3 linked regions of the Homo sapiens genome follow. The protein of the gene in region 3 interacts with the protein of the main gene of each other region in a pairwise test. Each region holds a gene or a part of one and is shown on either strand. Other genes may lie near its edges.

Evidence for each region. Proteins that work in one complex are often made in the same cells at the same time.
Region 1: the proteins of USP36 (region 3) and DHX33 interact in binary tests that used the Homo sapiens proteins (3 or more experiments, as listed by UniProt).
Region 2: the proteins of USP36 (region 3) and SOD2 interact in a two-hybrid assay, tested with the Homo sapiens proteins (one study listed by BioGRID).

What each region holds. Positions count from the first base shown.
Region 1 is NC_000017.11:5,451,947-5,458,983, reverse strand, and holds part of DHX33 (ATP-dependent RNA helicase DHX33), read left to right. Parts: intron 1-2,801; coding exon 2,802-2,987; intron 2,988-3,712; coding exon 3,713-3,824; intron 3,825-5,003; coding exon 5,004-5,163; intron 5,164-5,315; coding exon 5,316-5,404; intron 5,405-7,037. UniProt on the Homo sapiens protein: Implicated in nucleolar organization, ribosome biogenesis, protein synthesis and cytoplasmic dsRNA sensing. Stimulates RNA polymerase I transcription of the 47S precursor rRNA.
Region 2 is NC_000006.12:159,683,206-159,690,242, reverse strand, and holds part of SOD2 (superoxide dismutase [Mn], mitochondrial isoform A precursor), read left to right. Parts: intron 1-2,000; coding exon 2,001-2,117; intron 2,118-5,209; coding exon 5,210-5,389; intron 5,390-7,037. UniProt on the Homo sapiens protein: Destroys superoxide anion radicals which are normally produced within the cells and which are toxic to biological systems.
Region 3 is NC_000017.11:78,802,814-78,809,850, forward strand, and holds part of USP36 (ubiquitin carboxyl-terminal hydrolase 36), read right to left. Parts: intron 4,824-7,037; coding exon 4,146-4,823; intron 3,508-4,145; coding exon of another isoform or gene 3,474-3,507; coding exon 3,343-3,473; intron 1,166-3,342; coding exon 572-1,165; intron 43-571; coding exon of another isoform or gene 1-42. UniProt on the Homo sapiens protein: Deubiquitinase essential for the regulation of nucleolar structure and function. Required for cell and organism viability.

The DNA of each region.
Region 1 (7,037 bases), about 73 Mb from region 3:
TCAAGTGATTTTCCCGACTCAGCCTCCCAAAGCACTGGGATTGCAGATGTGAGAAACCGTGCCCAGTCAATTTTTATTTTAAAATAAGTGATGCATATGGGATTTAAAGTTTTAAAAAGTCAAGTAGTTTATAGTAAAAGGTTTATAATAAAAGAATAGCAGTTGTTTTTACTTCAACATCCCAGATTTCTGCTGTTTAGGGCACCTACTTTCAATCTCTACATATTGCTTTCATGTTTCTAAACTACCTTGCTTTGACCACTATTTTTTGAGTTATGGGTATCAGGCATCATATGCTAATTTCTTACCATGGTGACAAAAGTTTAGAATGCCCCTCCCCAACCCCCTTTATCTCCAACCTCTTGACAGTTCTATCATGTTTTTGTTTAGGTTTTTGTTTTTGAGGCAGGATCTTGCTGTGTTGCCCAGGCTGGTCGTGAACTCCCGGGCTCAATCAGTCCTCCCACCTCAGCATTGGGAGTAGCTAGGACTACATGCTTGCACACCTGTGTCTGGCCTATTATGATGTTTTCTGAGTCCAGTATCAATACTAAGAATATTATGACCACACATTGCTAGTAGCACACCATCATCCCTGTACCTTGTTTCTTGAACAACACAGTTGTGCAAGCTTTCTGGGTAGCTCTGGCTCATTTTCTCCCAAATATTCCAACATCTCATATGCCAGTCGTGTATAGTTCTGTGTTCAAGCACAGTCTGTCTTTTCAGAGTCCTTTATGCTGCTGTTCCAGTTGGGGCAGGTGGCTCTCCTGGGCCTTTGTGCAGCTGTCATCTTGACTCTTCACTTTGTCACCATTTTCCCGTGGTGAGACCCATGGCTTCCCAGTCTCCTGGCCGTCCTGGGTAGGAGAGGGAACTGAAGGCTTTAACTACTCTATACTCAGACTTTGAACCAATCCCTGAGTTTTCACTCTCCCACAACATAATTTGTAGTTTCCTCCCTCTAGCCAAGTCATCCAGCCCCTTTCCCCTCTCTTCCAAAATGAGTTGAGACTCCTCATCTCTCATTGCCTTTTCTTTCTAAGACAGTGGCCTTTACTGTCGTTTTCATAGTGTTTGGGGAAGAAGTCTGCCTTGTTCAGCTGCAGAAAGCAAACGAGAATTTTTCATGAATGATGGCTGCTGGTGCATTAGGTTACCACTGGCTTTGATGAATTCTCCCACTCATGAGGTTTTGACTGTTTTAGATTTTATCCTGTCTGTGTATCCCTCTGCACATTTGTTCTGTTAATACTGGGCTGAAAAAAAATACATATTAAAAAATACGTATTTTTACATATATACATAAATATACATATAATTATTAAAATTTTTTTCTATTTATTTTGCCATTAGGCACTTTTTTTTTTTTTTTTTGAGATGGAGTCTCACTGTGTCGCCCAGGCTGGAGTGCAGTGACACGAGCTCGGCTCACTGCAACCTCTACCTCCCAGGTCCAAGTGATTCTTGTGCCTCAGCCTCCTGAGTATCTGGGATCACACCTAGCTAACTTTTGTATTTTTAATAGAGATGGGATTTCACTGTGTTGGACAGGCTGGTCTCAAACTGCTGACCTCAACCCATTTGCCTGCCTCAGCCTCCCAAAGTGCTGGGGTTACAGGCATGAGCCACTGCGCCCAGTCCATCAAGCACTTCATTTTATTTATTTATTTTTTGAGATGGAGTCTTGCTCTGTCGCCCAGGTTGGAGTGCAGTGATGCAATCTCGGCTCACTGCAACCTCCGCCTCCCATGTTCAAGTGATTCTCCTGCCTCAGCCTCCTGAGTAGCTGGGATTACAGGCGTGCGCCACCACGCCTGGCTAATTTTTTGTATTTTTAGTAGAGACAGGGTTTCACCATGTTGGTCAAGCTGGTCTCGAACTCCTGACCTCAGGTGATCTGGCCGCCTCGGCCTCCCAAAGTGTTAAGCACTTTACATCAAACAAATTAATGTATCTGATCAGAAATCAAAGAAAAATCAGGGCATTAGGTATGTCATTCACACTTGGGTGTTGTTCCATTTGAAAGTGAGGAACCCCATTAACCTCAGTATCTCAAGCAGTTGTCCGAGTATAGTGTGTGTTTTGGGGCGTGTGAAAGCGCTTTCGACGGCGTCATTCATTAAAGGCTCCTTCTCCAGCATGGCTGCGCCTGTTCATTTCCATAGATTAGGATTTCCCCAAGTTTCCTTCTGTTTTGTCAACTTCATTTTTCAAGATGCTTATAAAAGAAAGGAAGCTTCATGCAGATTTTATTTGCTTGCCTGATTATGCTTTTCATGGTATTGTTCTTGTTAGAAAAATCAATCTGATGATTTCCCTTCAAAATTTCATCACTTGGCCTATAAACATAGCTGGCTAACTCCTATATATTACAGTTTTGTTTTTTGTGTTTTTGAGTCAGGTTCTCGTTCTGTCGCCCAGGCTGGAGTGGAGTGGCAAGCAGCTGGAACTATAGGCATGTGTCACCACCCCTGACCAATTTAAAAAAAAGTGTTTTGTAGAGATGGGATCTTGCTGCGTTGCCCAGGCTGGTCACAAACTCCTGGCTGCAAACGATCCTCCCGCCTCAGCCTCCCAAAGTGCTGGGTTTACAGGCGTGAGCCATCACACCCAGCCTGTTACCATTTACACACTGCTGGTAAGGGTTCTCTCCAAGCTAGACATCAACTTTTAGGCTCATTTACATTTCTATAGTTAAGAGAAATAACTCTGGGAAACATCATCAATCACCATTGTCTTTTTCTGTGCAAGCTGCAATTCTATCAATGCCTAGTAAACCCACTCTACTTTTTTTACAGGAAGCCCCTTCTTCACAGGACATCCTGGTGTTCCTCACTGGGCAGGAGGAGATCGAAGCCATGAGCAAGACGTGCCGAGACATTGCAAAGCACCTCCCAGACGGCTGCCCTGCGATGCTGGTCCTTCCTCTGTACGCCTCCCTGCCCTATGCACAGCAGCTCCGAGTCTTCCAAGGGGCCCCAAAGGTGAGTGCACCACCTCTTCTGTCCAGCCCTATTCTGGGCACCCAGACGGATCCACCAGCGAGGTCTGTACCTGTTACCAGGCTCCAGATAAGGTGTATGGGATGGGATACCCAGGTGCCAGATCAGCGCACTGAGGAGGTGCAGGAATAAAATGCGCGGTGACACACGCAGCGCTCCTGTGACAGGAGCAGGGAGACAGTTGTTGGGATGAGGGAGAGTATAAACCAAAGCTGCAAGGTAAACGAGTGACTTCTAAGGACCAGCATAAATTGCATTTGTCCATAGTGCCATTTCTTGTGTGCCTTTGCCGTGCCAGGCACTGTGCTAGCATTTATATCCACTGTCTGTCATCCTCGTGGGAACCGGCAAGGCAGGTTATGATCCCATGGGGATCCTGAGGCCCCAAGAAGGGAAGTAACAATTGCTCAAGGGGGCGCATAGTAAGTCACTGGCAGGGCCACGATTCCAACCCACATCTACTTGCTTCTGATTCCTGTGCTTGTTCCACTGCATCTCATTGCCTCAAATTGACCTTTAAGACTGCAGCGTCCCCTTCCCCTGCCCGGTTTAATGACCAACCATTAATATTAATGACTGCCATTAATAATGGAGTCATCTTCTGTTGGTCAAGAGTGAATTGTGGAAGTTAATGGTGAGAATATGTTTGAAGACTTCTGAATCATCCGTGTGTCAATGCGGCTTTTTGGTTTTCTTCCTCCTTTTAGGGCTATCGCAAAGTGATCATTTCAACCAACATCGCTGAAACCTCCATAACCATTACAGGAATAAAATATGTAGTTGACACGGGCATGGTTAAAGCAAAGAAGTATAACCCTGGTGAGAATTTGTAGTTCATGAATGTCTCTCCTGTGTCTAGTGAGCAGCCACTGAAACTGTAGTCCCACAGTTTTCCCCTGAGTGTTTCATGTTTGTAACTAACAAATTCAGGTGGCAGGCGCCATGAGTGAGATCACCTACACTCCAGGTCCGCGAAGGAGTCCTGAGGCGGGTATGTGAGACAGGAAGTAGAGGCAGGAAAGAAGAGCCCAGGTTGAGCAAACTTGGGCACACAGGGTCAGGGACCTGGGCAGAGGGTCTGGTACCCCATCAGAAGTCGGCTCTAAGGCCAGGGACAGCTGGGTGTCAATCAAAGGGTGTCATCAGAAACTATATATATATGGCTGGTTTGAGCTCCCAGGTTTCTCAGGAAGGAACCAGATCTCCTGGCTGAGGTGAGGCATGGAAGGAGCACTGGCTTCTCCTAAGAAGGTGCAGTGAGAAGCTAACTTAAGGTCATCTTGACTCATGTCTGTTTTATACTTTGCTTTATTCCACAGAGGATTTGAGACCACTGAAATTATTGCTCCCAATTATTGAACTGAAATGCTCTAGTAAACATTTGAGGGTCCTGGCTTCCACAGGTGTATCTTTTTGTGATGACGTAGGTGAAAGAGCTTGGGTCTCCAGTGCCAGGCTAATGATACACCTTTATCAAGAAAATGAACCTCATTTACTGCTAGAAAACAGACATCACATTATTTCTGTCTTACAGCAGAACTGGGAGGGAGGATAAAGCACACAAGTGATTTGAGGCATTTAATTTCGTAGTCATTGATTGATAGTATGACCCCCATCCTAGTTTGCTGAAACTCCCAGTTTTAGCACCCAAAATCCGACATCCCAGGAAACCCTCTGTCCCAAGCAAACTGGAGGGGTTGGCCATCCTACCATCTAAGGCAAGACCTCGGAAACTACTCTTCTCGCCCCTTGCTGCATGCGTGAGGTTTTTCTGATGTTTTTGTAACAGATTTCACAGTGGGCTTATGGCAAAGCCTTGTTTCACTAGGGCCAAACCGCTGCGGAGCAGTCTGGTTTTGTGCTGTCCATTGTGCTAGCCTTGAGGCTTTCTGGACCCCCGTGTTGCTGAAAGAACCACTGGTGTGCTTCTTTTTATCGACACTGTAGAAAGAGTTTGTTCATGTGATGAAGCACTAATGGGGCTCACTCTCCATCCAGACAGTGGTCTTGAGGTGTTAGCAGTGCAGCGGGTATCGAAGACGCAGGCTTGGCAGCGCACAGGGAGGGCTGGCAGAGAGGACAGTGGCATCTGCTACCGGCTCTACACGGAGGACGAGTTTGAGAAGTTTGATAAGATGACCGTGCCAGAGATCCAGAGGTAGGCACCAGTTGCTCCTGCACTGCTGCTGTTTGTCACCATGTCTCTCCTGCTTGCCCAGAGCTGCAGTTTTTACTCACACTCCACCATGAGGGGTTCTGACTCAATGGCAGAGGGATCAGGTCATGACCCTGGTCTCATGCTCTTCACAGGTGTAACCTGGCCAGTGTGATGCTTCAGCTTCTAGCAATGAAAGTCCCAAATGTGCTCACCTTTGACTTCATGTCGAAGCCATCTCCAGGTAAGTGAAATCCACAGTTTTGCAGAAGGTGGGTGAGGAGACAAACAACAACAAATGGACACTTCCAAAAAAATAAAGTATATTGGTCATCTCCTTTTGTTTATTTAATTTTGTGGATGACAACATTAGTTATTAGAGAAGCATCTGAAAATCATGAAATGATAGATAGATACATTGATTGACTTTTAAAGAGACAGGGTCTCACTGTGTGGCCCAGGTGGAGGTGCAGTGACTATTCACAGGCTCCATCACAGCCTCCAACTCCTGGGCTCCAGCGATCCCCCCGCCTCAGCCTCCCAAGTAGCTGGGACCACAGGCATGCGCCAGTGTTCCTAGCTATGAAACGATAGATTCTGTACTATCAGCACCATCAATAAAGTTCCTTGACCTCTGGAACCAGTGAAGGTCATCATGCGAGTCCTTGGGATACTACAGAAATGTAATGAAATTGTACTTTTATCAGCACAGGGACTGCAAAGATCACATTTCTTTGCCTTTAACTGGAATTTGATCCATCTCTCCTGTTCATTAGTAATTTCTCTACAGAAGAAGAAAATAATTGGAAATATTTATGATATTGGCTTTGGCACCTGGCCTCTCATCAACGCACCATTTTCCTTTTCTTTTTATTGCCCCCCCTTTTCTTAAGAAATGCAATTGGTTTAAAAAAGAAGGAAAGAAAACACAAAGTCACCAGTTGATGGGTATACAAGGGTCCTGCCCTGATCCTCAGGTTCACAGTTTCCTTCCCCTAGAACAACCACTGGAACCATTTTCTAGTAGACTTCTAGAGCAAATGTATGCATATATGAGTATATGTAGTGTGTTTGATTTTATTTATGTATTTATTTATTTATTTTTGAGACAGGGTCTCACTCTGGTTGTCCAGGCTGGAGTGCAGTGGCACATTCTCAGCACACTGCAGCCTCAACCTCCCGGGCTCAGGTGATTCTCCCACATCAGCTTCCCAAGTAGCTGGGACTACAGGTGTGAGCCACCAAGCCCCTGCTGTAGTATGTTTTTGTTTTTGTTTTTGTTTTGAGACAGGGTCTCACTCTGTTGCCCAGGCTGGAGTGCAGTGGTGCGATCCCAGCTCACTGCAACCTCCACCTGCCGGGTTCAGGTGATTCTCCTGCCTCAGCCTCCCGAGTAGCTAGGACTACAGGTGTGCACCACCATGCCCGGCTAATTTTTGTATTTTTTAGTATAGATGGAGTTTCACTATGTTGACCAGGCTGGTCTTGAACTCCTGACCTAGGTGGTCCGCCCACCTCGGTCTCCCAAAGTGCTGGGATTACAGGCGTGAGCCACCACGCCCAGCCTGTAGTATGTTTTAAAACACAAATAGCAACACACATTGAGTATTGTTCTGTGCTTGATTTTTTTTCTTTCATTGCTAAATTCTTACATACAAATGAAGAAGATACATAAGGTGTAAGGAATGGTTAAAATCTAACACCTGTGTACCCAATTGAAGCCCCCAGGAGTCCCCCCCACCCACTTGCCCTCGCCTCCTTCCACTCTTTTGGGGTACCCACTCTTCCATATTTTGTTTGTAATTGCCTTGCTTTTCTTCACTGTTTTACTATATGCGTATGTATCCCTAAACCACCTGTTGTTTGTAAGTTTATGT
Region 2 (7,037 bases), on a different chromosome or scaffold from region 3:
TGATCTCGGCTCACTACAACCTCCGTCTCCTGGGTTCAAGCAATTCTCCTGCCTCAGCCTCCTGAGTAGCTGGGATTACAGGCGTACGCCACCACGCCTGGCTACTTTTTGTGGGTTTTTTAGTAGAGACAGGGTTTTTCCATGTCGTCCAGGCTGGTCTGGAACTCCTGACCTCAAGTGATCCGCCCATCTCAGCCTCCCAAAGTGCTGGGATTACAGGCGTGAGCCACCTCACCTGGCCTTGTATGTATGTTTTTTTCTTTCTCTTTCTTTTTTTTTTTCTGTGACGGAGTATTGCCCTGTCGCCCAGGCTGGAGTGCAGTGGCGTGTTCTTGGTTCACTGCAACCTCTGCCTCCTGGGTTCAAGCCATTCTCCTGCCTCATGCTCCTGAGTAGCTGGGATTATAGGCACGCGCCACCATACCTGGCTAATTTCTGTATTTTTAGTGAAGACAGGGTTTCACCATGTTGGCCAGGCCGGTCTTGAAATCCTGACCTGAAGAGAGCTGCCCGCCTCGGCTTCCCAAAGTGCTGAGATTACAGGCGTGAGCCACCGCACCCGGCCCAGACATATGTTCTTAACGTACACTTTCAGAACAGCAGTTGAGAACTTTTTCCAAAATGTAAGCTCCTTGAGAGCAAAGCTCTCAGTGGGTCTCTGTGTCCTTTACTTTGCTTCTCTTGGTATCTTGTGGATAATATGCACAAAATATTTATTAAACAAGAGGATTTCCATTTTTTTCTAATATTAATAGTTCATTTAGTCTGTAGCTTCTTGAAGGCATAGAAAAGACTATTTTATTTTGCCTACTTATTTGGCAAGGTACCCATGCAGTATGCCAGGAGTTACAGGGCCTATTGAGAAGGAGTAAAGGGTCTGGGAGGGGTGGCAGGGAGTTGCTAATTCATGTATGGTGGCTAGAGAAGGCTTCACTGATGGGGTTGATGTTTCAGTGGAGACTTGAAGGAGGAACAGGAACGCAGCATGAGACTGTCTTGGGGAAGAGTGTTCAGCAGAGGCAGCAGTGCTCAGCTAGCCTTGAGGGGAACATCCAAGTTGGTCATGTGAGTGCAAAAAGGCCAGTGAGGCTGCAGCTGCGTGAGCACGTGCTCAATGACGGGGTCAAGTGCAGCGCCTCTTGGTAGTAAGAGTAGCTGAGTGTAAACACCTAGGGTTCGCTCCAGTGAGAAGGGGAGCCTTTGGAGGGGGCAAGGCCCACCCCCACCCCCCAAAACTGAGGGGATAGTGGCACCAGTGCAGTGAGAAATACTGGTCCTCTGTCCCAATGAGGTGGCAGTAGAGTTAGGGAGAAGGGATTAGGTTCTGCTTGTGTTTTATTTTTTTCTTTTATTTTTCTCTGTGTGCTTTTATATAGATTGGATGTATTTTAAAGGTAGAGCTGGCTTTGCTAATGGATATGCTGGTGGATTGGATGTGGGGTGAAGGGAGAGGAGTCAAAAATGACATCAGGTTCCCAAGGATGTCCTGAGGGACAGAGCTGGCATTTACTGAGACGTGGAGGACAATAGGAGGAGTAAGTTTGGGGTAGAACATCAGGAGTTCAATTTTGAGTATGTTGAGTTTCTTGTTAATGTGACTTGGAGATATTTCCCAATGAATCGTCGTCTGTCTTGAAAGTGAGAGTTGAAGGTTTTCTGTACAGTCTGTATGTTGAGCCATACATTTTAGCATTCTATTATTTTGATTGTCCTCTTTGGTGTTTCATTTCCTAAAATCTCTTCTATCTAAGAGATCCCTGAGCCTAGCAGCCAGGAGTGAATTTTCTAGCTTTTCCACCTCTGCTAGGTCCTTCATCAGTTGTTCAGCATGTCTGGGACAAATAATTTTGGGGCGGGGGGGTGCTGAATTTTAGGACAAACGGATGTTATAGATAAGCTGGTCCCATTATCTAATAGCTTACAAAGAAAAAAATATAATGTATACAGTGGTTGAAAAAGTAGGAGTTACAAAAAAATGTGTTTGCATTTTAACTTTTCAGGAGATGTTACAGCCCAGATAGCTCTTCAGCCTGCACTGAAGTTCAATGGTGGTGGTCATATCAATCATAGCATTTTCTGGACAAACCTCAGCCCTAACGGTGGTGGAGAACCCAAAGGTTGGTATATATTGGTGCACCCTTATCTACATTTTGTGCACAGTAGGAATCGATTGTTGATTTACTGAAGTTACCTTATACTTGTTTTTTGTTTTTTTTGTTGTTGTTTTTTTGAGACAAGAGTTTTGCTCTTGTTGCCCAGGCTGGAGTACAGTGGCGCAGTCTTGGCTCACTGCAACCTCCGCTTCCTGGGTTCAAGTGATTCTCCTGCCTCAGCCTCCCAAGTAGCTGGGATTACAGGCGCCCGCCACCACGCCTGGCTAATTTTTGCATTTTTAGTAGAGATGAGGTTTCATTCACCATGTTGGCCAGGCTGGTCTTGAACTCCTGACCTCATGATCTGCCCACCTTGGCCTCCCAAAGTGCTGGGATTACAGGCATGAGCCACCGTGCCTGGCCTAAGTTACCTTATTCTTACCAGAGGTATCATAGTGGCATATTTTTCATAACAACGAGTATGATAAAAGTTGTAACTTTCAAAAGGACACAAGTAGGAATGGAGAATGCTTTCATGGGGTTATGTCATAAGATTTTATGTTCACGCCAACATAGAATATCACATCAACTCCACCTTCTGGTTTCTGGATGGTACTTCATATTAGGGAAAGACTGAGAGACTTCATTTTATGAACTTTTTTTTTTTGAGACGGAGTCTTACAGTCGCCCAGGCTGGAGCGCAGTGGTGCAATGTCGGCTCATTGCAACCTCCGCCTTTCAGGTTCATGCAATTCTTGTGTCTCAGCCACCCAAGTAGCTGGGATTACAGGCATGTGGCATCACTCCCGGCTAATTTTTATATTTTTGGTAGAGACAGGGTTTCACCATGTTGGCGGGGCTGGTCTCGAACTCCTGGCCTCAAGTGATCCACCCACCTTGGCCTCCCAAAGTGCTGTGGTATGGATGTGAGCCACCGCGCCAGTCTAGAAAAGATGAACTTTCTGTCTACTAGTTTCTAGGGCCTGGATTAGATAGTTAACCGTCTGTACCTTTTTTCATCTATGTGATACAGGGATAACAATGGTGTTGTTTTGAGAATTAAATTATAGTGTCATTTGCTATTTTTCACTCTTTCCTAACTGATAAAAAGTCAGTTGTTCCAGGAAATTAGGTTTTCTGGGTATTTTTAAAAAGTGTTCAGGGAATGAGGAGAGTACAGGGCTAGATGGTCTTGTTCGCTATCACTGTTTCCTTGACTTCCTGTGTAGCTTGTGGAGGCCCAGATGACTTTAATTATCTTCTTCACCCAGGGAGGGCATGAGGCGTAAATGTAGTTCTTGTCTCTTGTTTCTGGGCTCCGGATATGCACCCTAAGTTTCTGTGGTTTTATTGTTCATTTTTAATCAGTGTTATGGAAGGCAGCCTATCTTATGCACTTGAAATAAGCAATTTCATTTTAAGGTAATGATGAATGAGGAGAGTAAGCTTGGGAAACTGGGCAACTTTTTCTTTATTTTTGTTTTTATTTATTATTATTTTGGAGATGGAGTTTAGCTCTTTCGCCCAGGCTACAGTGAAGTGGCTTGATCTTGGCTCACTGCAGCCTCTGCCCATCCCGGGTTCAAGTGATTCTCTGCCTCAGCCTCCCGAGTAGCTGGGATTATAGGTGCCTGCCACCATGCCCGGCTAATTTTTTTGTATTTTTAGTAGAGAGGAGTTTCTCCATGTTGGTCAGGCTGGTTTTGAACTCCTGACCTCAGGTGATCCACCTGTCTCGGCCTCCCAAAGTACTAAGATTACAGGTGTGAGCCACCGTGCCTGGCCAACTTATTTTTTTTCTGAGTTCAGTCTTCTAGACTATCGGTTAATACTTTTGAAGTTTTGTCAGTTACCAGAATATCAGATATATTCATATGCAACCAGTGGTTTTGGTATGCTGCCATTTTTGTTTAATCTGTACCACATTCCATCATTTGTGCTTATAAAGATGATTACTTTTAAACCCGTAGAATAAGAGAAGTGAGATTTTGACCCAGTTGATTTAGTTGATGTGACTAATCTAGAATTATATTCTGTATTACTACAGAATAAAAGGATTACAGCTCTTAAAGTATACCCTTAGTTCAGTCGTAGAGAAAACTGCCCATCAAGACAGGAAGAGCTGGGCTGCCTTGGAGAAGAACAATGACTTTATTCCCAAATGGAGGCGTAGAAGAAGGAGGGTAGAAGTCAAAGGAAAATTTTCTATTCAGGGAAAAGAAAAAGCTAACAGAAAGTAGTATTTCTTTCCTAACAAAGATAGTACAGTGAGTGGGGAAATCCCTCTAACACGATTCATTAAAAAATGTGAACTACGCAGCTGGAGGCCATTATCCTAAGCGAATTAACCCAGGAACAGAAAACCAAATACCACATGTCTCACTTGCAAGTGGAAGCTAAACATGGAGTACTTATGGATATAAAAATGGCAGCAACAGACACTGAGGACAGAGCAGGGAGGGAGAAAGAAGGGGACGGGGGGTGAAAACTGTTGTATACTAAGCTCGCTACCTGGGTGATGGCATCAATTGCACCCCAGACCTCAGCATCATATGATACCCGTGTAACAAACCTGTGCGTGTACCCTCTGAATTTAAAATAAAATTTGAACCGGGCACGGTGGCTCACGCCTGTATTCCCAGCACTTTGGGAGGCCAAGGCGGGTGGATCACCTGAGGTTGGGAGTTTGAGACCAGCCTGACCAACATGGAGAAACCCTGTCTCTACTAAAAACACAAAATTAGCCGGGCGTGATGGCACGTGCCTGTAATCGCAGCTGCTCGGGAGGCTAAGGCAGGAGAATTGCTTGAACCTGGGAGGCAGAGGTTGCAGTGACCCGAGATCATGGCATTGCACTCCAGCCTGGGCAACAAGAGTGAAACTCCGTCTCAAAAGGTAAAAAATGAAAAAAAAAAAAAAAAAAAAAAAAAGTTGAAGTTATAAAAAACAAAAACGTGAATTAAAATTGTGAAACTTAGATCCAGGTGTCGCATTCTGATGTTGTCTAATTTCTTGGGCCCTATGACAAAAATATTTTAATACATGTAATATAACATTTTACTGTAATTATTGAAATCTGTTCATTTGTGGGTGGTTTTGGATTTTTTTTTTAATAGGGGAGTTGCTGGAAGCCATCAAACGTGACTTTGGTTCCTTTGACAAGTTTAAGGAGAAGCTGACGGCTGCATCTGTTGGTGTCCAAGGCTCAGGTTGGGGTTGGCTTGGTTTCAATAAGGAACGGGGACACTTACAAATTGCTGCTTGTCCAAATCAGGATCCACTGCAAGGAACAACAGGTTAGATTTAAAAATTGTGATTTCATTTGGGAGAGATGCTCTACTGTAAAGCATTCAACTAGAAATAAGGAAAACTAACAGTGTTTTAAGAACATGTAATAATTTGCAAATCTTAACAGATAACACCCAGAGTCTTGTGTAAGTAAAAATGTTTTAGAAGTCCTGATATTTCATAAAATTAAGTACACGTAATTTTATAGGTACATTAACAAACATGTTTTATTTTTATTTATTTTTTTTGAGACAGATCTCACTGTTGCCCAGGCTGGAGTGCAGTGGTGCGATCTCGGTTCACTGCAACCTCCGCCTCCTGGGTTCAAGTGATTCTCCTGCCTCAGCCTCCCAAATAGCTGGGATTACAGGCACATACCACCATGCCCAGCTAATTTTTGTGTTTTTAGTACAGACAGGGTTTCACCATGTTGGCCAGGCTGGTCTTGAACTCCTGACCTCAGGTATCTGCCTGCCTCGGCCTCCTGAAGTGCTGGGATTACAGGCATGAGCCACCATGCCCAGCCAAATGTTTTACTTATTAACCCTGCTTCATTCTACAGAGAATTAATATCAGCTTAGATAATTATATGTACTAAAATAAAAAAAAAATTAGCTATAGAACAAGAGTGAGGAAAAGAAATACAAGCAGAGACTGATTTCAGAGCTTGTACTGTTACCTCCTCTGCTGAGCATTTGAGGTTAAACTGGGACTAGATCTCAGGTTTCCAGACCTTCTGCCTTTCTGGGGCTCTTTGGTAGAGTATATGAAAATATTCGGCTTGGAAGTGCCAGGCTGGGCTCACCAAATACTTTGCTGTTGAGCCTAATTGGATTTAAAAAATGTCACTGAAGAGTATGGGAAATAGAGCCATGAGTTGTCTGGCAGAGGGTTGGGACTTTGAACTTAAAGTGATACCTTCACATCAACAACAGTCATTCTCTGCCCCTTCTTCTACCCCTGACATTGGAATACTCTTGATCTGTGGCTCACTTCACAGGATAGACCCAGATTTTGGCAGAATCTGAACAGCTCTTTTGGGACAGTGACATGGCATAACAATTTGTAAAAGCCACAAAAAATTTGTAAGCACCGATCTGTAGAGTCAGGTTATTTGTAGAGCTGCATGACCAGAAAGGCTGATATTTGTAAGTGAGTCCCAGCTACACTCCTTCCTCTCCCTGTGGAAAGCACATTAGAAGGAAAATGAGGGAATGTCATGGCCTTTTGTTTATAAAAATCATTAATAAATTTTGCTACTTGAAATTATTAATAATAAATTACTAGTGACCTCCCTCACAACTGATCAAGACATACTGGTTAAGAATTGTTTTTGTAGAGAGAGCTATAATTTATTTTGAGTGTTTTTGTGTGTGCGTGATGGAGTCTCACTCTGTTGCCCAGGCTGGAGTGCAGTGGCGCAATCTTGGCTCACTACAACTTCCGCCTCCCAGGTTCAAGCAATTCTCCTGCGTCAGCTTCCTGAGTAGCTGGGATTACAGGCGCCTGCCACCTCGCCAGGCTAATTTTTTGTATTTTTAGTAGAGGCGGGGTTTCACCATGTTGGCCAGGCTGGTCTCGAACGCCTGACCTCAAGAGATCTGCCTGCCTCGGCCTCCCAAAGTGCTGGGATTACAGGCCTGAGCCACTGCGCCC
Region 3 (7,037 bases):
TGGCCTGGCCCGGGACACCTGATCCAGCATCCTTGAACGGCCCTGCACATACAATGATGGACACTACTGTCCACACCACTGTCGCTTCAAGGATCAATCCACTGGTATTTATCAGAGGAGATATTTTTTCTTTTTTCTTTTTTTTTAGACAGGGTTTAGCTGTCACCCAGGCTGTAGTGCAGTGACGCGATCTCAGCTCACTGCAACCTCCACCTCCTGGGCTCAAACCATCCTCCCACCTCAGCCTCCTGAGTAGCTGGGACTATAGGTGCATGCCACCATGCCCAACCAATTTTTGTTTTTGGTAGAGAAAGGGCTTTTCCATATTGCCTAGGCTGGTCTCAAACTCCTGGGTTGAAGTGATCCACCCGCCTCAGCCTCCCAAAGTGCTAGGATTACAGGTGTGAGCCACCACACCCAGCCAGAGGAGACATCTGATCACAAATCCACATTTTAGAAAACCACGCAAGCAGACTACGTTTCCAGACCATACCTACTTGGGGGTAGATTCTGTGGTTTTGCTTTGTTTCTCGTCAGAGGTAGACAGATGCCACTTTGCTCCTGCCCTTACCTGTGCCGAAGTGGGTCCTGGTGCAGGCCGCCTTCTTCACCAAGACCTTCTGCTCCTTTCCTCCTCCGCTTCCTGCTGCTCGCGTGGTGGCCGTCCGTAACACATCCCACCTGCTGGCCATTCACCTGTGGCTGTGTGCCATCTTCCTGCCGTCTGACAGCGGGCAGCTGTGCCTGGCCCTCCCTCCTGTACATGGGGCTCCCAGGCTGTCTCTGTGTCTGCCCCTCCTGCAGGGCGCTGGCAGCTGTGTCCTCCGGGCGCTTCTTCTTCTTCCTCTTCCTCTTCCCGTGGGGAGCCGCAGTGGCCTCCCTGATGTGCTGTGGGAGGCGCGTCTCTGAGCCCAGCCTCTGCGGCTCTCCCACAAAGGTCTTTTTCCTCTTCTCAGAGGGGCTCTGGGGGGGCTCACTGGCCTCTGGCAACTGGTGTGGAAGAGACACAAGGTCCTCGTTGACCTGAGGCAGCGCCGTCGAGATGGAGGAGCAGCTCCGTGGTTCTGACGTCCCTGGGGGCTTGGGGGTACTGGACAGCAATGTGGGGTGGGGGCTGAAGGGGGGTTGCAGGCGGCTGGATGATTGGGGAGCAGGTGACACAGCCCTGTGGGGACAGCCAGGAAACAGGGAGAGGATGTTCTGAAAGACCCAGCAGAGCTGTTCCTTCTGTCTACCCTCACTCCCCTCCCTTTCACCTAAAAATCTGAAAAGGCTTTTACCCTGTAGTTTTCAGATACACATTAAGTTACATGTATGTTTGAAAGAAAGCTAACAATTAATTCAACATCTATTTAAATGCAAAGTTGGCCAGGTACAGTGGCTCATGCCTATAATTCCAGCACTTTGGGAAGCCAAGGTGGCTGGATCACCTGAGGTCAGAAGTTTGAGACCAGCCTAGCCAACATGGTGAAACCCCATCTCTACTAAAAATACAAAATTAGCCGGGCGTGGTGGCACACGCCTGTAATCTCAGCTAGTCAGGAGACTGAGGCAGGAGAATCGCTTGAACCTGGGAGGTGGAGGTTGCAGTGAGCCGAATCGCGCCACTGCACTCCAGCCTGGGCGACAAAGCAAGACTCCGTCTCAAAAAAAAAAAAAACCAAAAAAACAAAAACAAAAACAAAAAAAAAAAAACAAAGTTACCTAGGTGGTGGGTTGATAGGTGCAGCAAACCACCATGGCACCTCTGTAACAAACCTTTACATCCTGCACATGTACCCTGGAACTTAAAATAACTGATCCCTGAGATTTAAAAAAAAAAAAAAAAAAAAAAAAAAAAGCAAGCCAACACGTGATTTTAAAAGTCAAAAAAAAAATTTTTTTTTTTTTAAAAGGCAAAGTTAATAAGAATTGTTCCATGCCTTAGTTTCTTGTCACCAAGCAATTCAAGTATTTTTGCGAGCTCTAATGTAAAAACATCTTTAATACAAATGTGTTAAGGGAGGAAACCTTCACGAAACAATAAATGGTAAGGAAAAAAAAGATCCCGTGAGGATTTATTTTCCAACCTCCGAAAGTCTCAGGGTGTTCCCGGGCAGGAAATGAGCCTCATAAGGAAAGCAAGTGTTGAGCTGGCCTAATGACACCTCCACATTACCGTCATTAGGACGCTGAAACCGGGACACAGATGCGTAGAGCAGAATCATGAGCAAGGCGTGTCCGGGACAGGATCTAGTGCCGAACCCAGTGAGGCTCCCTCTTGCCAGCTATGTGTCTCTAGGAAAATTAACTTCCCACTCTGAACCACCATGTTCTCATTTGTCAATGAGCTGGGACCACAAAGCCCACCTCCCAGGGTTCCTGCAGAAAACAGGACCCCCGTCATCATCTAAACAAACTATAAGGGCCATGCCAGCTGCACGATGTTTGATTACTCTAAGTGTCTTCTGGAATCTTTTCCAAAAAAGCTTATAAGGCAAGAAACGAAAAACACCCAAACACTTAAGGCCCTCCCACGTACACAAATCTTATGCTAGGTATAGGGCAGAGGTGTGCTTGTGTGTGTATATGTGAGAGGAGAGTAAGGCAGAGGCTGTGGGCGACGCACAGTCATACCTCGCCCTCATGTAGCACTGGAGATTCTAGAACTAGAACCCAGCGCCGAGGCCACCAGTACAGTCCCCGCAGGCCGCCTCATGACTCACCCCATCTTTCACTGCTTCCGTCCCCACTCCCAGCGGCTTCCAGACAGCCATTTACCAGTTACTCTCAACTTCCTGCCACTCGAGGCACCTAAGAGACGCAGGCAGCCCCTGCGGACCAGGGCCCACATGCACAGGGAAGGGGCTGCATCTCTGGCAGGTGTCTGCAGAGGAACCCGAGAGCCCTGAGACAGTTCTTAACCTGCATGACGCTAGCAGGCAAGACGTCCCACAAAAAACGCTCGGGACTCCGAGCTCACTCAAGCCTCTCGCCAAGGCCTCACTTCGCCTTTCTCTTCGACTGGGAAGTACTGTCATGGGGCTGGTAGGGATACAGGACAGGTCAGTCCCCAGCACACCACATCACCACAAGGATGTCGCAGACAGACCACCAACAAAGACAGAACTAAGACATCAGGACTGCAGAGGCCGAACTGCCTTCACCACCCAAAGCTCCTTTACCACAGGGGAACACAGAAGAGGGGGATCTTGGTCAGTGACGCCCCCCTGTACCTCCTGGCTGCCCCAATGCTTTGTCTGTCCTGTGAGGTTGGCGATTCGTCCAACTCCTCACCAGCCAAGCACACGCAACCACAGGGAGAACCAGTTGGCACCCAGAAGATCCCGGCCCAAAGCTTACCTGGCTCTATGGACGGGCCAAGTGGAGGCAACGACGGGGTGAGAGGTTTTCATGGGGTGGGTGAGGTCGGAGGATGGTGAGGGGGGAGGTGGACGGAGGTCATTGCCGGTCGCCCTCCACAGGGTGCTGGCCTGCAGTTATCGACATAAATAAAAACTTGGTGGTCTAAAAAAGGTTTCCGTGAGTGAAGAGGGAAAACAAAAGTAACAAAAAATGAAAATAAAAACAAAAGAGCCCAGAAAAAAAGATGAGGAGACAGAAGAAGACAAAAAGGGGAGGTGAGGGGCAGGGGAATGGTAGAAGAAGAACCAGAAAAGTATTTTTGGTTAGAAACAAAAAAAAGGAAGAAAATTTAAACAAAAATCTCAGCACAACAATCACATCCACGTGCCGTGGCTGCCCAAGCTTCCTGCTGCAGAGGTGCCGGGCACCCCACTGGGGCTCTGCGCTTCCTGCCCGCCCCACCCCTGCTAGGGACACGTGCTGGTGGGGCCCACCCTCCCTCGGGTTCAGTCAGGATCTTCCACCTACTGTGAAAACAGGGAACTGCTACCTTGCCCAAACCTCCATGAGTCACATGAGCATCACCAGATCAGGGCTCTCTCAACACCCCATACTGCCTTCACCCCAAGATAGCCGTTCTTTAATTGCAAATGGCTGGGAACGACTAAAAGACACTTTGTTCCTCTAACATGAGGGAGGCCAAAGCCCCCGGACAATGTTCTCACTCCCTTCAAACCACAACCAAGCAACTCTTGGAGCTCTCCTGATACACAGCAGCGGCGAGACCCCCACACACCCACCTTCTTGGCAGAAAGGGCCAGTTTTTTGGCTGGTGGAGGAGACATGGTGCTTGCAGGCTCAGTGGTGGTGTTGCTCAGGACAGGGGACTTCAGCTTCACCGTCTTAGAATCTGCTCCACTTGGCGGCGTTTTGGAGTGGCCAGCGGTGGAACAGTTCGTTTCCTGAGAATCGCAGAGATGGGCCGCTCCACTCCTGGGGGTCTGGGGGGCCTTGGTGGAGTCGCTGCTGGCCGAGTGCTCTGGGCTGGAGCTGCTGGAGCCCCTCCTGTCGAGGCCAGCGCTCTCGTCGTTCCCCTTCAGCCCATGCCCGTTGGCAGTGGCTGTAGCCAGGAGCTTAGGTGAGGTAGAGAGGACAACATCCCTGCTGTCCCAGGAGCCCTGCCTTTGGCTCCCAGATCTGCTGCTATTCGAGTTGCTGGTCCCAGGCAGCCCCTGAGCAGTTCTGGGGGAAAAGTGCTGTGGAGGAGCTGGCTTCTTCACCTTCTTTCCAGGGTCGTCTAGGATGGTTGGCATGTGTGTGGGTGTCTGGGAGAGTTTGGGGGAAGGGGACCCCGAGGGCAGCTTTGGAGGAATGCAGCCGTTCTGGGACTTCAGGCCCAGGGTGGAGCCATTCCTGGATATGGGCACACCAATCTCTTCAGTGGTGTGCGGCTTCTTCATCGTCCCAGAGTCTTGTCGCTAAGGAGACCAAAGCAGAAAACACAACTGAGGAAGCGAGAAGTCTCAGCTGGGCCACATCTTCTTAAGGCCACAGTGAATCTTAGTAGCAGGCATGGCCTCTGATTAGCATGCTCAAGATAAATTATTTATCTGGACTCTTGGTAAAGACACTGTGGCTTCTCTGAACAATTCTGGTGTTCTGTGACATCCCAAGAACAGGGACCACAGCCGTGTACCACCACACCTGGCTAATTTCTGTATTTTTGACAGAGATGGGGTTTCACCATGTTGGCCAGGCTGGTCTCAAACTTCTGGCCTCGAGCAGTCCACCTGCCTCAGCCTCCAGAAGTGTTGGGATTACAGGTGTGAGCCATAGCACCTGGCCTGAATACATATCTTTATGGCCACCTTTACTATAAAACCAGTACATTTTCATCAAGATTTGGGAAGAGAAAAAAGTATAAAGGAAGAAATTTAGCAAAGTTCCATCACCTAAACATAACCATGCATTAACATTCTAGTGCTTTCTTTTTTCAATCTTTTCTTCCAAATGGTTCTGGCCTGAAGAGTTGCATCCCAGTTTTATCTTAAAGCTATTATCTCAAGCATTTTTATGGGCGATAACTCTCAATAAATATCTTTAAGACAGAGCCTTGCTCTGTTGCCCAGGCTGGAGTGCAGTGGCATGATGATGTCATCATAACTCACTGCAGCCTCAACCTTCTGGGCTCAAGAGATCCTCCCACTTCAGCTGCCCAACTGGCTAGGACTATAGGAGTAGACCACCACACCCGAATAATTATTACTATTTTGTAGAGATGGGGATCTTGCTATGTTGCCCCGGCTAGCCTTGAATTCCTGAGCTCAAGCAATCCTCCCACCCTGGCCTCTCAAAGTGCTGGGATTACAGGCCTGAGCAACTGCACCCTGCCTGTCGGCCTGTCTTTGACATTTTACTATATATACTATGTACTACTGATACACATTAACTGTATGGTTAATTTATATAAGCTATATTGTCTCCAACTGTTGAAATTAAAAATACTGTACAGTATATGTGTGTGTATCCTTTACCCTTCAGAGCACTTATTACAACTGCATAGAAATAACTTATTATTCTGTATTTAGATGCTGAATGTCAGCCTTCCCCTGCTTGACCAAGAGGCTGTACCCGTTATCTCTCTCGTTCCCACTGCAGCCCTCACCAGCAACTCAAGGGTCTGGTATAGAGTCGGTGCTTAAAAAATATTTGTTGAGCTTTTCCTGTACTTAGTACTCCATGCTAATTTTCTGGAAATGGAATTACAAGGCTAATTTTCTGGAAATGAAATTACAGATTTCATTTTCATGAAATCTGATGCAAAATGCCAAACTGCTTTTACTATACTCCAGCCACATCTATTTTTCAAAACATTTGCTAATTTGACACTCGTTTGGGCTATTACCACTTTAACATTCATATTCTCTGCACATGCACTAAAGTGATCTTCATTTGAATGAGATCTTTTGTTTACAAATGTTAACCTTTTGTTGACAATATTTTACAAGGTTTTATTGCTTCATTTGTTTGTAGTAAATTATGTACAAAAATGTAAATCTTAGTCAATTCATAATTCTTCTACATTTTATCCTTCAACTTTAAGCATACAAAGTCTTCTTCCCTTCCCAGAGGTTAAGAATTTACCTCTATTTTCTTCCAAGTTTTGTTTTGTTCCCTACATTCTATTCTTTGTTAATACTGTTTTCTAAAAGGAATTCATCTTTCCACTGCACCGCAAAGCCGTTTCACTGGCTGAACATTTCCATACACACTAGAACTTGCACCATGTCATTTAGAGTAAAACGGCTCGTCTGCTTGCAGTGTATTTGGAAAATCACGTTTGTAATGAAAATGCTCATGGTCAGTGAAGCGCCCCTGCAGGTGTGCCTGACACAGGGACTCTCCTTGAGCCAATCTCCACCCTCGGGCATCACTCTGCCCATGGAGTTCCTGTGGCAAGTGGGGCTTCCTTTGTTTTTCTGGGGTTTTTTGAGACAGGGTCTCATTCTGTTGTCCAGGCTGGAGCGCAGTGGCACAATGATAGCTCAATGCAGCCTTGTGTTTAAGTGATCCTCCTGCCTCAACCTCCAAACAGCTGGGACAACAGACGTGCACCACCACACCTGGCTAATTTTTGCACTTTTTTTGGAGATGGGGTTTTGGAGATGGGGGTCTTTCTATGTTGCCCAGGC